2 separate regions of the Homo sapiens genome follow, and region 1 is linked to region 2. Evidence: fine-mapped expression QTL. Tissue or cell type: whole blood. Region 2 holds a variant in brackets; the other region holds the start of a gene. All regions are shown on one strand. Distances are from middle to middle.

Evidence for each region. PIP is the estimated chance that this variant, and not a neighbour inherited with it, causes the effect.
Region 1: POLR3H starts here. The variant in region 2 is fine-mapped to the expression of POLR3H in whole blood (TOPMed, PIP 0.97).

The regions. Positions count from the first base shown.
Region 1 is chr22:41,539,869-41,547,969 of GRCh38, forward strand. POLR3H (RNA polymerase III subunit H) reads right to left here and starts at 4,602. Exons shown (of 6, transcript NM_001018050.4): 1 at 4,123-4,602; 2 at 831-927. The coding sequence starts at 4,233. RefSeq lists enhancers at 3,963-4,800, 4,123-4,222, 4,233-4,322 and silencers at 4,373-4,502, 4,693-4,792.
Region 2 is chr22:41,579,121-41,587,221 of GRCh38, forward strand. PMM1 (phosphomannomutase 1) reads right to left here. Exons shown (of 8, transcript NM_002676.3): 2 at 6,956-7,073; 3 at 5,407-5,483; 4 at 5,161-5,252; 5 at 4,839-4,938. Among named protein-coding and RNA genes, the nearest start is that of PMM1, 6.7 kb to the right of the region's middle. The variant G/T (reference allele first, on the strand shown) is at 5,058.

The DNA of each region.
Region 1 (8,101 bases), 39 kb before region 2:
CCACCCAACTGACCGACAGAATAGGGAGAAACAATCCACGCTGATAAGTCACTGAGTGCTCGTTAGGTGCCAAGGCTCTGTCCTAAGAGCTTTCATGTATTAACTCCTTAATCCTCACAATGGTCTTAGAATATAAAATCTATCCTAAACTGCAGTTGACATCCTGAACTGCAACTGACAGATAAGGAAGCAGAGGCACAGAGCAATGACATATTCAGCCAGGACACACAGCTAGTAAGAAGCAGAGCTCAGCTTTTAATCTTGAGGCCACACTCTTACCTACTGTGTCCTACTATCCAAGTCCCCCACCCCCAGCCAGCCTGCTGATCCCCCTTCCGTCTGCTCTCCACAGGCAGCGGGAAGCCCGAGGAATGGACAAGGTGCAGGGCTCAGTAGCAATGAGACCAAAAGGGCACAGACACAGAGCTATGAAGTCAGAGCTGAAGAGGCCTTGAAAACCAACTAGTCCACATCCCAGGCCTCACAGATGAGGGAACAGAGGCCCAGAGAAGAGAAGTCTGCCGCTGTCACCGGGTCAATTCCTGGCCGATTCAGGATGAGGCCCCACGTCTCCCAGCCTCCAGGACTCCCACCACCCTCTGGCCATCTCTTTGACTTTAGCCTTTTAAAATTTTTTCATATTTTATTTATGTATTTAAAGACAGGGTCTTGCTATGTTGCCCAGGCTGGCCTTGAACTCTGTGGCTCAAGAGATCCTTCCGCCCTCAGCCTTACAGGCACGCACCACTGAACCTGGATTTGGCTTGACCTTTGGCTACAGAAAACTGAGCCCCAAGAAGCCCAATGCCCCAGGGACAGAAGATACCCACCTTTGGTGTGTGATGCGCCATCCCCAGGGAATACATAGGCATCCTCCAGTTTGGTGATATCAAACAGACAAATGCAGAGTCCCACGTTGTACACGACCTGCATGCATACAAACACAGACACACAAGTACACATGGATACAGAGTGACCACAGGCCCAGCTCCCAGGCAATCTGAGCCCCTCACAACCACAAGCAAGCCATGATTATCTCCTTTTTTAGGTGAAAATGAGTTTGTGGAGGGGACCAGGGTAAGGAACCTCAGAAGGATGCAGAGCTCTGGAAGGAGCAGGGCCTCGGGTGACAAAACAGGTCCAGGTTCCAAGGCCAGCTCCACCACCCACTGTGTGACTGCCAAGAGGGTCACTTCACCTCTCTGAGCCTCGGTCTCCCCATCTGCAAATGTGAAATACCAGGCTGCAGAGTTATAAAATAAAGAGAGATAACAGATGTGAAGCCCCTAGCCTTGTACCTGGCTCGTGTATTGGAAACCATCATCATCAAGGATCTTTGTTATTACTAGTGAGGACCAGTGACAGGAATGCTGCCTAAACGTGCACTCTCCGACATCCCAAAGCCAATGCCAGAGCTCACAGTTTAGTGAGCGTCACAGCCACAGCTAAACCCCACTGTGCTCACAACATCTCAGACACACAGACGCAGCCACAGGGACTGCAGCTGGCAGAGGGACACAAGACCTAGGCCCCAAGAATGTGCAGAAATCCCATGCCCTCACCCCACACCACTGTGGTTCAAACGACTGGCTACTCAGTGTCTCCTTATCTGCCACCGTGTCATCACCCCCACTTAGAACCCTTGCAAGAACTGTCCAAGAATTAGCAAGAAGCTCAGAGAACTCAGAGTCGTGGCCAGACCTCACCAAGATAATGCCACAAGATCTGTGCCCTTTGTCAGACCATGGATTTCTGTGTGGGCCCCCTCTCAAACGATTCATCTAATCAAATACTAGAAGACTTGTCCCAACAGGACCTCTACCCCAAAGGGACTATATTCCCTTCTTGGACTTTCCACACCTTCTCTCTCAAGGTCCACACCTCCATCCCCCAACAGACCCTCATCTTCAACCTCACAAAGTAACCAGAAGCCATCCACTTAAAGACTCCATGAGTTCCCTTCACTATCTAGCAACCCCCAAATCAACCTCACCTCTTCTGAAGGGACCTGTCTCATGCGTAAAGCCAGCTAAGCATCCTCTTTCTGGCTCCTTCTCAGCCCATCACCTTCTGATGCTCCACGGATAAAGACCAATACCTCAACTCCGACATCCTACAGGGCTGTGTGGCCTGGCCCCCACCCACCTGTCCAGCCCACCCTCCCCTCTGCCCAAGCCACACCAGCCTCTTCCACACCATGGTGGGTATTTTACCCCTTCTTCTTTTTTTTTTGAAGCGAAGTTTCACTCTTGTCACCCAGGCTGGAAGGCAGTGGTGCGATTTCAGCTCACTGCAACCTCTGCCTCCTGGGTTCAAGTGATTCTTCTCCCTCTGCCTCCCAAGTAGCCGGGATTACAGGTGCCTGCCACCATGCCCAGCTATTTTTTGTATTTTTAGTAGACATGGGGCTTCACCATGTTGGACAGGCTGGTCTCAAACTCCTGACCTTGGGTGATCCACCCGCCTCAGCCTCCCAAAGTGGTGGGATTACAGGTGTGAGCCCCCACGCCCGGCCTGTATTCCTTCTTCACAGGGCCTTTGCACATGCCAGTTCCTGCCTTCAGGGCTCTTCTCTCCACCCAGCCCCCTCCCACCCTAGAAAGGAATCCTCTGGTTGGCTCCACTTCACCATCAGATCTCACCTTCAACCCCACCTCCTCAACAAAGCTGCAGGTCCCCTCATTCCAGGGGACGTTCCTTTGTTCCACAGGTGTGTGAACACCTGTCCCTCATAACATTTACCTCAATTTGTCACCAAACACTCAACTGTGGACCCTTCTCATTCATATCTGCTTTCCCACCACACTATAGCACAGAGCCTTGTCTCTGTTTCATTCATTCAGTCAACAAATGGCCGGGCACGGTGGCTCACACCTGTAATTCCAGCACTTTGGGAGGCTGAGGCAGGCAGATCACCTGAGGTCAGAAGTTTGAGACCAGCCTGGCCAACATGGTGAAACCCCGTCTCTACTAAAAGTACAAAAATTAGCCAGGTGTGGTGGCAGGTGCCTGTAATCCCAGCTACTCAGGAGGCTGAAGCAGAAGAATAGCTTGAACCTGGGAGGTGGAGGTTGCAGTGAGCCAAGATCGCTTCATTGCACCCCAGCCTGGGCGACAAGAGCGGCACTCTTGTCTCACACACACAAACACAAAACAGAAAATTATGGGACATCTACTCCCGCCAGGCTTTGGCTAAATGAGGGGATACTTCAGGGAAGAAGGCAGATAAGGTCCCTGCTCTCAAGGAGAGGGAAAGGAAAAAGTCTAAGAAGGAAAGAGAGTGATGTGACACAGAATACCTGGAAAGGGAGGACTGTCAAAGAAACGGCAGTGGGAAGACCTCTCAGCTGGTACTAAGGCACACAGGCACAGCACAGAGAAGGCGCACAAATATTGGCTGCTGGAATGAAGGGATGAACCTCCTGACAGTTAATTCTGTACTACTAGAACTCTCCATCTTCACGAAAACAATGCATTGACCCGAGGCGATGGCGCACACCTGTAATCCCAGCACTTTGGGAGGCCGAGGCGGGGGGATCAAGAGATCGAGACCATCCTGGCCAAAATGGTGAAACCCCGTCTCTACGAAAAATACAAAAATTAGCTGGGGGTGGTGGCGCGCGCCTGTAGTTGTCCCAGCTACTCGGGAGGCTGGGGCAGGAGAATCGCTTGAACCCGGGAGGCGGAGGTTGCAGTGAGCCGAGATCGCGCCACTGCACTCCAGCCTGGACGAAAGAGCAAGACTCCGTCTCAAAAACAAAAAACAAAACAAAACAAAACAAACAACAACAACAACAAAAACAATGCATGGCTGGAAGGACAGCAATATTTTATCCCCATTTTAAAAATGGAAACTGAGGCCCAGAAGGGGTCAGTAACTTGCCTGCAATTGCAAAGTAATTTAGAATTGTGGAATCTAACACTTCCAGTTACAACTCCCTTTTTCAAGCCCATTTTCTTTTGATCCCCTTCAATATCTCCTTTCACGGTGAAGAAAAGTTCTGAGACATTAAGCTGCTTGCCCACGGCCAGGGCTTGGCATGACCGAGGCCGGGCCTGCGGCCAGTGGGCGGCGCTCGCTCTCCCACGCCAAGGCCTGCCCGCGAGCCGTGGGCCCAGTACCTTGTTGGCCAACTTCTTGTTCAGCTCCTCGGCAATGGAGTCGTTGAGCTTCCTCTCAAACTGCCAAGGGGGGATCCGGACGGTGTCCACCATTTCCACCAGGACGAACATCCCGGCCTGCGCTGGGGGCTCTGGGAACAGGAGGGTCAGTCACGCACCAGGGCCGGGGGCAGGGAGAATCCCCGAGCCCCTTGGTCCCGTCCCAGTCGCTGAGGCCCCCAGGCTGGCGGTGAGGTTGCACGGGGCGGTCTCGGGGGCCCGGTCCGGGCCATGCTCCGCTACTACAACATGAGGAAACTGAGGCCAGAGGGAGGCACTCTCCGTCCACAGCTCCGGGTGCGCGCCCGCGCCGCGAGACCCCGCCACGCCACGCCACTCCACGCCACGCCACTCCACGCCCCGCACCCGCGCCACGTGCCGCCGCTCGTATCACGCACCACGCACCACGCACCGCGCACAGCCGCTCGCGCTTGCGCGACTGCGGGCGAGATTCCGAATCCATCGCTTCCGGAAAACTCACCAATAAGAAACCTCTGTCCACCCCCACCCCGCCGAGGCGGGGCGGGGCTGCCTGTGTGCTCGCGCACAGCGTGGGGCAGAGAGAGGGCGAGGAGAGGGCGGGGCCTCCTCCTTTCACAGGAGCAGAGCGGTTCCCCCGCCCCCGACAGCGCTTTCTGTTGCTAGGCGACCTCCGTGCAATCCCGCCTGATTATCCCTCGCCTGGCCTGTGCTTTACCCGCATTGCTGTCCTCTGCTCGGCAGCCAGAGTGATCCTTTGGAAACGCAAACATATATTACCACATCTAAGTTAAAAAAAAAACCCACCGCAAACATAACATGCTTAGCACCCTTAAGTGTTCCGGAGACAAGGAGAATTAGCAGGAAAGGGGCACTTGGGACTGTTCTGAGATGATGGAAATGTTCTGTATTTTGTTTTCGGTGGTATAACATTGACGTATATAATTGTCCAAACTAATTGAACTCGGCAAGATTTTTGCATTTATTTGTAGACATTATGTTCCAATTGAAAAGTTATAATAAATTGGAACAAAAAACACAACCCATTGAACTTAGAATACTAGATCCAAGCCGGGCGTGGTGGTGTACACCCGTAGTCCCACCTACTCAGAAGCCTGAGACAGCAGCATCGCTTGAGTCCAGGAGTTTGAGGTTGCAGTTTGAGGTTGCATGCTGCACTCTAGCATGGGTGACAGTGACACCTCATGTCTAAACGAAAAAGAAGAAGAAGGAGAGGCGGAAGAAGAAGAAAGAAGAAGGAGAAGAAGAAGAAGAAAGAAGAAAGAAAAGGGAAAGAAGAAAGAAAAGAAGAAAGAAAGAAGAAAAGTCCAAAACCTTTATGGTAGTTCACACGGCCCTGCAAGATCTGACCATACCCCCCTCCTATAGCCCCATCATGCTCTGTCTCGCTGACATTCCAGTCTCATTCATCTTCACGTGATAGCATGGGCTAAGAGAATTTGGTAGCTTACCCAAGATCACGTGTTGACAAGTGGTAGAGGTGGGCCCAGTCTGAACCTCACTACCCTGCCTCTAAAAATTGGTGGGGTGTAGATGTATACTGTAGTGGGTTTTTTTGTTTGTTTGTTTGTTTGAGACGGAGGATCGCTCTGTCGCCCAGGCTGGAGTGCAGTGGCGCGATCTTGGCTCACTGCAAGCTCCGCCTCTCGGGTTCACGCCATTCTCCTGCCTTAGCCTCCCGAGTAGCTGAGACTACAGGCGCCCACCATCACGCCTGGCTAATTTTTCGTATTTTTTTTTAGTAGAGACGAGGTTTCACCGTGTTAGCCAGGATGGTCTCGATCTCCTGACCTCATGATCTGCCCACCTCAGCCTTCCAAAGTGCTGGGATTACAGGTGTGAGCCACCGCGCCCGGGCTTGTAGTGTGTTTTAACCAAAATAACAATTTAGGTACTTACAAAAGATACTTGGGGTAAATGACAGAGGCACTTGGAAATGTATGGTGCCTTAATTTGCTGATTTCACAAGCATAGTGATCTCTCAGTGACACTGGCTGCAGTGATGCTAAATGTGGCCTTCCCTGCATCTATGATTTTATTTTTAGGTGTGCTTCTATAGGATTTGAGGTACTTGAGGACAGCAGCAAATGCTACTTCAGCTCTTTATTCCCACAATCCCCTAACACATTCCTAGGAAGCATTGAGTAAAGGTGTTTAGGGATTACCATTAATTCTTCCTCTCAAATGTTTCCTCTTCATTCCACTCCCACTGCTATTGCTTCGGTTCAGGCCTTTTCTTTTTTTTTTCTTTTGAGACGGAATCTTGCTCTGTCGCCCAGACTGGAGTGCAGTGGCATGATCTCAGCTCAATGCAACCTCCACCTCCTGGGTTCAAGCGATTCTCCTGCCTCAGCTTCCCAAATAGCTGGAATTACAGGTGCCCACCACCACACTTAGCTAACTTTTGTATTTTTAGATAAGATTTCACCATGTTGGCCAGGCTGGTTTCGAACTCCTGACCTCAGGTGATCCCCCCCATCTTGGCCTCTCAAAGTGCTGAGATTACAGGCATGAGCCACCGTGACTAGCCAATATCTGGTCATTTAAAAGTATGTGGCGGGGCCAGGCGTGGTGGTTCACACCTGTAATCCCATCACTTTGGGAGGCCGAGGTGGGTGGATCACAAGGTCAGGAGATTGAGACTATCCTGGCTAACACGGTGAAACTCTGTCTCTACTAAAAATACAAAAAAAAAAAAAAAAAAAAAAAAGTAGCCGGGCGTGGTGGCACGCGCCTGTGGTCCCAGCTACTTGGGAGGCTGAGGCAGAAGAATCACTTGAACCCGGGAGGCAGAGGTTGCAGTGAGCTGAGATCACACCACTGCACTCCAGCCTGGCGACAAAGTGAGACTCCGTCTCAAAAAAAAAAAGTGTGTGGTGGCCAGGCGTGTGGCTCATGCCTGTAATCCCAGCACTTTGGGAGGCCAAGGTGGGCGGATCACCTGAGGTCAGGAGTTCAAGACCAGCCTGACCAACATGGAGAAACCCCGTCTCTACTAAATACAAAATTAGCCGGGCGTGGTGGCGCATGCCTGTAATCCCAGCTACTCAGGAAGGCTGAGGCAGAAGAATCGCTTGAACCCAGGAGGTGGCGGTTCTGGTGAGCAGAGATCGCGCTATTGTACTCCAGCTTCGGCAACAAGAGCAAAACTCCATCTTGAAAAAAAAAGTGTGTAGCACCTCCCTCCTCCCACTCTCTCTCTTGCTCCTCTTTTCCCCATGTGATGTGCCTGCTCCTCCTTTGATTTCCGATATCATGGGAAGCTTCCCGAGGCATCCCTGGAAGCTGAGCCTATGCCAGTACCATGCTTGCTGTAAAGCCTGTGGAACCATGAGCCAACTAAACCTATTTTTTTTTTTTTGAGACGGATTCTTGCTCTGTCGCCCAGGCTGGAGTGCAGTGGCATGATCTCGGCTCACTGCAAGCTCCACCTCCCGGGTTCATGCCATTCTCCTGCCTCAGCCTCCCAAGTAGCTAGGACTACAGGCACCCGCTACCACGCCCAGCTAGTTTTTTGTATTTTTAGTAGAGATGAGGTTTCACCGTGTTAGTCAGGATGGCCTCGATCTCCTCACCTCATGATCCACCCGCCTTGGGCTCCCAAAGTGCTGGGATTACAGGCGTGAGCCACCGTGCCCAGCCAGCCTATTTTCTTTATAAATTAACCAGCTCTGTTGCCCAGGCTGGAGTGCAGTGGCGCTATCAGGGCTCACTGCAACCTCCACCTCCCCATTTCAAGCGATTCTTCTGCCTCAGCCTCCAGACTAGCTGGGATTACAGGCGTGCACCACCACACCTGGATAATTTTGGTACTTTCAGTAGAGACAAGGTTTTGCCATGTTGGCCAGGCTGGTCTGAAACTCTTGACCTCAAGTGATCCTCAGCTTCGGCCTCCCAAAGTGCTGGGATTACAGGCATGAGCCACCACTACCAGCCAGGT
Region 2 (8,101 bases):
GTCTTCTGAAGGAGACCTCAGAGGAGAGACACGAGTAGGAAGGGCGAGGAGACGGGGCAATCTGGATCCCACATCAGTGTCCACCTCAGGGCAGGGCTCGATCCTGTTATCTGTAACCAGCTCAACAAAGCAAATACTCAGAAATGAGCATGGGAGCTGAGAGCAGGAGACCTGTGAGGAGGTGGCTGTGGGCATTCACAGAGGGCAGCAGGATGCCAGGCATGGCAGAGCACCCAGCATGCAAAGACGCGGCTGGGCTGGGGACTAGGTAGTGCCCAGGCCGGCCCCGTCCCTCTGAGCAGGAACTCTGGCAGCAGCTCCGCAAACGTGGAGCAGGGGGACATTCTCCCCGCCAGCCCCCAGGATCTCCATCTCAGAGGGCCACAAAGGGGAGCAGCTATGCCCAGTCTGAGGGGCAGCTGAACATCTAAACCAGCCAGCAGGACATTCAGCTGACAGAGGGTCTCGAGACCGGGCTGGGAAGTCTGACCACATCCTGGGGGACCAAGAGGCGCTGAGGATTCTGGAGCACAGGAGTGGGGTGGCTGGTATGGCCCTGTAGTCAGAGCCGGGTAGGACTGGGGCGGAAAGGCAGGCAGTGGTCAGCAGCATGGAGCTTGGAGAAGTGGCCCAGGGAGGATGTCAGATATAAAGCCAGACACCCCCTAGCCTGAGATCTGAAGGCAAGTAGCCAGGCTTGGCTACTGTACTCCTCAGCTGTGTGACCATGGGCAAGTCACCTGACCTCTCTGAGCCTATTTCCTGGACTAAAGGACAGAGAAGTAATGAATGACCCCTGCCTGCTTCCCTCTCATGGAAAAGCAGAGATAAGGGATGTGAGCCCCCTGCCAGCCTTGGCCTGGCTTTCCAGCAGGTAGGTGGGCCCCAGGGAGGCCAGAGTCCCCACCAGCGTCCACTCTGTAGGCCCAGGGCTACCACTAAGACTGCCCCAGGCTCTGAAGAAATGTTTCCACATGGCCGAGGCTGGCTGCACCTCCCTTCTCTGGAGAACAAGGCTGGTCACTAGACAGCCCCATGTGCAAGGCCAGCCTCAGCAGGGACCGGCACTGTGACCTCGAGCTGGTTACTCACCCTCTGGCCTCAGTGTCCTCATCTAAGGAAGGGAAGTACTCATCCCCGCTTCAGGGTTCTGGAAGATGAGCTGGGTTAAGCATTTATTTACACCAGCTCTGGGCCAGGGCAGGGCGCACAGATCAGGAAGGTTCATGCTCCTCCAGTGCCAGAAGGGAGCAAACAAGAGCCAAAAATACTTGAGAAGGCTCTGGGGTGGGGAGTTAGGGTGTGGCTCCCCAACTCCATGCCAGGTGGGGTCCATGTGCCACCTCATCCAGTGCTCATGACAGCCCATGGGATGGGAACTGCTATTACCCCCACCTTACACATAAGGAAACTGAGGCACACGTTAGTAAAGATGCTTTTCCAGGTTACAAGGCAAATGGGTAGAGCTGGGACTGGGAACCTGGGTGGACAGGAAGGGATAACTTCTCAGCACGTGTATTGGGGGGGAAGGGTTCTTTGCCTAAGACCAATCCTAACTACCCCAAAAAAAAAGTCCCCGTGGCCGGGCGCAGCGGCTCACATCTATAATCCCAGCACTTTGGGAGGCCAAGGTAGGCAGATCACTTGAGGCCAGGGATTTGAGACCAGCCTGAACATGGCAAAACCCTGTCCCTACTAAAAAATACAAAAATTAGGCCGGGCGCGGTGGCTCATGCCCGTAATTCCAGCACTTTGGAAGGCCAAGGAGGGCGGATCACAAGGTTAAGAGATCGAGACCATCCTAGCCAGCATGGTGAAACCCTGTCTCTACTAAAAATACAAAAATTAGCTGGGCGTGGTGGCAGGCGCTTGTAGTCCCAGCTACTTGGGAGGCTGAGGCAGGAGAATCGCTTGAACCCGGGAGGCAGAGGTTGCAGCGAGCCGAGATCTCACCACTGCACTCCAGCCTGGCGACAGAGTGAGACTCCATCTCAAAAAAAAAAAAAAAAAAAAAACCCAAAACCAAACCAAAACCAAAACCAAAACCAAAAAACTTAGCCAGGTGTGGTGGCATGGGCCTGTAATCCCAGCTACTCAGGAGGCTGAGGCAGGAGAATTGCTTGAGCCTAGGCAGCGAAGGTTGCAGTGAGCTGAGATCATGCTACTGCACTCCAGCCTGGGTGACAGAGCAAGACTCTATCAAGAAAAAAAAAAAAAGTCCCTGTGCCTGTGGGCACTGCCTCCCCTAAGCCTCAGGGCACAGGTGGGAGTCAGGAGTCACTGAGCTGAGAGGCACCCTCAGGGAGGCACCAGAGGGCCAATGGCAAAATCAAATCTTTGCTCTGCAACCAACTCCCTATGTGACCTCGGGCAGGGCCCTTCTCATCGAGCCTTGGTTTCCTCATTTATAAAATGGAGATAATACAGCTCATTTCATTCATTCAAAAGGTATTTCTTGCCGGGCACAGTGGCTCACACCTATAATCACTTTGGAAGGTTGAGGTGGGTGGATTGCCTGAGCTCAGGAGTTCGAGACCAGCCTGGGCAACACGGTGAAACCCCATCTCTACTAAAATACAAAATATTAGGCCGGGCACAGTGGCCACGCCTGTAATCCCAGCACTTTGGCAGGCTGAGGCAGGCGGATCACGAGGTCAGAAGATCGAGACCATCCTGGCCAACATGGTGAAACCCCGTCTCTACTAAAAATACAAAAAATTAGCTGGGCATTGTGGTGCATGTAATCCTAGCTACTTGGGAAGGCTGAGGCAGAAGAATCGCTTGAACCAGCGAGTCAGGGGTTCCAGTGAGCCGAGATTGTGCCACTGCACTCCAGCCTGGTGACAGAGCAAGACTCTGTCTAAAAAAAAAAAATTAGCCGGGCGTGGCAGCATGTGCCTGTAGTCCCAGATACTTGGGAGGCTGGGGCAGAAGAATTGTTTGAACCCGGGAGGTGGAGGTTGCAGTGAGCCGAGATTGTGCCACAGCACTCCAGCCTGGGTGACAGAGCGAAACTCAGTCTCCAAAAAAAAAAAAACAAAAAAGGGTATTTCTTTGCGAGGTGCGGTGGCTCACACCTACAGTCTTGGTGCTTTGGAAGGCTGAGGGAGAAGGCCCACTTGAGGCTAGGAGTTCAAAACTGGCCTGGGAGACACAGCGAGATCCCATCCCTACAAAATATTTTAAAAATTAGCCTGGCATGGTGTAATGCACCTGTGGTCCCAGCTACTCAGGAGGCTGAGGTGTGAGGATCGCTTGAGCCTGAGAGATCGAGGCTGCAGTGAGCTAGGACTGGATCACTGCACTGCACTCCAGACTGGGCAACAGAGTAAGACCCTGTCTCAAAAACAATAACAACAAAAAGTATGCCATGTGCCAAGCATAGGGGATCCAGAGGAGAACAAGCCGCAGAAATCCCTCATGGAGCTTACAGTTCTGGGACAGGGACAGACAGTAATTCGGATTTTAAAAGTAGATGATGAAAGTTGTCCAAGGCTACTTGGGGAGAAATAAGGTAGGGGAAGGAGGAGGAAGTGCAGCAGTGGATGTGATACTCTCGGAGGCCCCACTGGGAAAAGGATGTGAAAGGGGATTTGAAGGAGGGGAGGGACGAGCTGGGCCTGAGAGAAGTGTGCTCTGACAGAGGCACAGCACTCTAGAATCAGCCAAGAGGCCATAGCTGGAGCAGAGGGCAGGGAGAGCCACCGAACAGGTCAGAGAGAATGACAGAATGACGTGGACGGGCCAGCATGGAAAGGTCTGGATGGGTGGATTGCTCCATCCCCGAGAGGGAGGGAGGCGGTGGGGAGAAAAGCAAAATGCACATCAAGGTTTAGCAGGGGCAGTACAGGCAGAGGTGAGAGGACCTTGGTGTGTTCCAGGAATAGAAAGTGGAACTTGAAGGGCATAGAAAGGAGACGCGGAGAGCCAGAGCCAGACAGAGCCCTCAGGGCTTGAGGCACCATAGCAGGGGGCTAGGACATCATCCAGTTGGCAACGAGGAGCCAAGGAAGGATTGTAAATGAGGGGGTGGGGCTGGGGGGTGAATGCGGCTGACATGTTTGAAAGGTTCTAATGGGCTGTGCGTGGTGGCTCATGCCTGTAATCCCAGAACTTTGGGAGGCCGAGGCAGGCGGATCACCTTAGGTCAGGAGTTCGAGACCAGCCTGGCCAACGTGGTGAAACCCTGCCTCTACTAAAAAAGTACAAAAATTAGCTGGGTGTAGTGGTGCATGCCTGTAATTCCAGCTACTTGGGAGGCTGAGGCAGGAGAATCGCTTGAACACGGGAGGTGGGAGTTGCAGTGAGCTGAGATCATGCCACTGCACTCCAGCCTCTATCTATTTTTTTGGAGACTCTATCTCCAAAAAGAAAAAGAAAGAAAGGTTCTCAGTGGCATTGCTGGAGAGCAGGCTGGCAGGGCTATGCAAGGGGTAGGGAGGGACAGAGAGGAAAGTTGGGGCAGCCTGGGGCTGGGGAAAGGGGTAATCTAGAAAGTGGGGTCTCAGTTCTGCAGATGAACAGATTTGACACTGACTCGAGAGGCTGATGAAATAAGAGTTGTTGGACCCGATGTGGGTGGGAAGGTGGAAATGATGTTCCCAGGTGTTGGCCTGGCTCAGTGGGTGGCTGCCTGGTGCTGGTCACCTAGGAAGGGGGACCAGCAGCATTGTAAAGATGCAGGTGTGTCTACAACAATGGCACACAGTAGGTGCCTGAAAGGGTATCAGTTAAATCAGAACACATCCCCCAGTCTATTTTACTGATGAGAAAATAAAGGCTCAGATAAATTGAGTGACTGAGGCCCTACAGGCCTAAGATTGCATAGCTAGTGGTACCTTGTCCAGTTCGGAGAACTCGATCCTCTCCTCCAGGGTGCAGCTCCGGCCGATGGGCGAGATGTTCAGCATGCCATTCCGGAACTCGATGAAGGTTCCACTGGTGGTGAGGGAGGGCGGGGAGCCAGAGAGAACCAGAACGGCCCTGAATTCAAATCTAGCCCCACCTGGGACCCCAGCCTCCTAGGACTTCAAAGGGGACAAGAATCCACACTCCCC[G/T]CAAAAAATCAGGGGCCCAAGTATCTCCAGGTTCCCTCTGAGGGACCCACACTTCTCCTCCCTCAGGCCCCAGGTTCTGGAGACCAGGCTGGTGGGACCTCACCGCTTCTTGGGCAGCCTGAGCAGGGCCATGTAGCTGAGGCAGAAGTTGATCAAGTCCTGCAGCAGCTCCTCCCCCAGGTGGTTCTGGATGGTCTGGCCAAGGAACACAGGGCTCTGAGCGTGGCCTGGGCTGCCTGACCCTGAGACAGGCACAGTGTCTCTCCCCCAGCCCAGGACAGAAGCCCCCTTGGACTGCTCCACTATGGAAAAGTGGGGTGCCCCTGGCTAAGCCCTGGGGGACACTGACCTGCTTGGAGAGCAGTCGTCCGTGCTTATACTGCACCGTCCCGTTCTCGGCAAACACATAATCAAACTTCTCAATGACTTCAGGGTCACATAGAGGACAGGAGGAAGAAAGAGTGTGAGACCACGTCTGTGACCCCACGGGCAAGTAAAGAGAGAGGAAGCCTACACCCTTGGTTTCACATTCAAAGGCCATTTGTTCAATCTGAGGCTACAACCTGCTTCTCCAGCCTTTCTCCCTCTGCAGCTTGGTTTTCTTCCAAAGAAGCCAGTCACACCTGTGGGCCTCTGCACACAGGCATCCATGCAGGTCCTTCTGTCAGAACCGCCCTTCCCTGGCTTCCCTGCCACTCATCCTCCAAGATTCAGCTTCCTCCTCTGGAAGCCATGCAGTACTCTCTGGCAGAGGGCATCATTTCCACTCTGTGCTCCCCTGCCCCTCTGCAGAGGGGCTCCCTTCTGTTCTATAGCTGCCATCGCACTGGGTTCTCAAGGCTGGCTGCATGGGAGAGTTGGAGGTTTCAGCTCTGACTGCCAGGCGAAGCAGTTGGAGTGGGTGGGAGGTGGGAGGCACAGGGAGCACAGCCCAGAGGCTGTTGCGGGGTCTGGGTGGCACGTGGTTACCTGGACTATGATGGCGTGGTGGAGATGGAGACAGAGGGGACAGGGAGATATTTTGGGGTTTGCTGATGGAATAAACAAGAGGTGGGGAAAAGGAAAAATTCGAGGAAGTTTCTGGCTTGAGGAACTGGAGGCACCCACTTTGACTGGGCTGAGACCAGGGGCTCTGAGGTCCAGTCGATTTCCTGGATAACTTCAGAGTCATCCTCTGTTAAATGGGATGATCACGCCTACTCTAAAGTGTGATTGTGGGGATCAAATGCAATGACATTAACACATGATCATTTTTGACAAATGGTAGCCATCATTGGTTCTGCCCTTTTATTTATTTATTTATTTATTTATTTATTTATTTATTTATTTTTGGATGTGTAGCCTCACTCTGTCACCCAGGCTGGAGTGCAGTGGCCTGATCTTGGCTCACTGCAACCTCCGCCTCCCAGGTTCAAGCGATTCTCCTGCCTCAGCCTCCCGAGTAGCTGGGATTACAGGCACGTGCCAACACACCCAGCTAATTTTTTGTATTTTTAGTAGAGACGGGGTTTCACCATGTTGGCCAGGCTGGTCTTGAACTCCTCATCTCAAGTGATCCATCCGCCTCGGCCTCCCAAAGTGCTGGGATTACAGGCGTAAGCCACTGTGCCGGCTGGTTCAGCCCATTTTAAAGATGAGGAAATCAAGACTCAGCAGGGAGAAATGAGAATGTAAACTGCATAAGGGCAGGTTCTGCTTGCTTTGCCCCAGCCATTTCTCAAGGGCCTGGCACAATCCCTGGCAATAGGAAGTGCTCAAGTGTTTGTCAAATCAGTAAGGGAACTATCTGGCTGCTCTCTCTCTATTTCTTCTGCCCCACAGAAGCAGGACTGGATCTTTGAAGACGCCCAGGAATCTCTCAAACTCCCCACTCCCTCTACCCCCAGCCTCACTCCTACCTTCATCCCCGTCACCCAGCTGCTCAGCGATCTTACAGTAGTCAGAGCCGCCCACCACACCGATCTGCACTCTACTTCGTAGCTTCTGCAGGAAGGCGGCCACCTCAGGGTCAATTTTCTATGGGGGGAGAGGGGAAGCATAGCATTCTGGCTTTCAACATGTCTGGGACCTCCACTTAGCCCTCACTTAGTGCTGAGAACCCAGGAAGCCCACATTCTACCTGGATCTGAAGCAGTACAAAGCTTAGACACCAAAAATTAGACAGGTTGGACACTGTGGCTCAGGTCTGCAATCCCAACACTTTGCGAGGCCAAGGCAGAAAGATCACTTGACCCAGGAGTTTGAGACTAGAGCCTAGGCAGCAAAGGAAGACATTGTCTCTATGAAAAAAAAAATTTTTTTGGAGACGAATTTTTGTTCTGTCATCCAGGCTGGAGTGCAGTGGTGTGATTCTGGCTCACTGAAACCTCTGCCCAGGCTGGAGTGCGATGGCGTGATCTCAGCTCACTGCAACCTCTGCCTCCCGGGTTCAAGCGATTCTTCTGCCTCAGCCTCCCGAGTAGCTGGGATTACAGGCGCCTGCCACCATGCCCAGCTAAGTTTTAAATTTTTAGTAGAGACAGGGTTTCGCCATGTTGGCCAGGCTGGTCTTGAACTCCTGACTTCAGGTGATCCATCCGCCTGGGCCTCCCAAAGTGCTGGGATTATAGGCGTGAGCCACCGTGCCTGGCCGAAAGTTTTTAAAAATTAGCCAGGCATGGGCTGGCACGGTGGTTCACACCAGTAATCCCAGCACTTTGGGAGGCCCAGGAGGGTGGATCACTTGATGTCAGGAGTTCGAGACCAGCCTGGCCAACATGGTGAAACTCTGTTTCTACTAAAAATTAAAAAAAAAAAAAAAAAAAAATTGGCCATGCGCGGTGGCTCACGCCTGTAATCCCAGCACTTTGGGAGGCCGAGGCGGGTGGATCACAAGGTCAGGGGATTGAGACCATCCTGGCTAACATGGTGAAACCCTGTCTCTACTAAAAAATACAAAAAAATTAGCCGGGCGTGGTGGCACGCGCCTGTAGTCCCAGCTACTCGGGAGGGCTGAGGCAGGAGAATGGCGTGAACTTGGGAGGCAGAGCTTGCAGTGAGCTGAG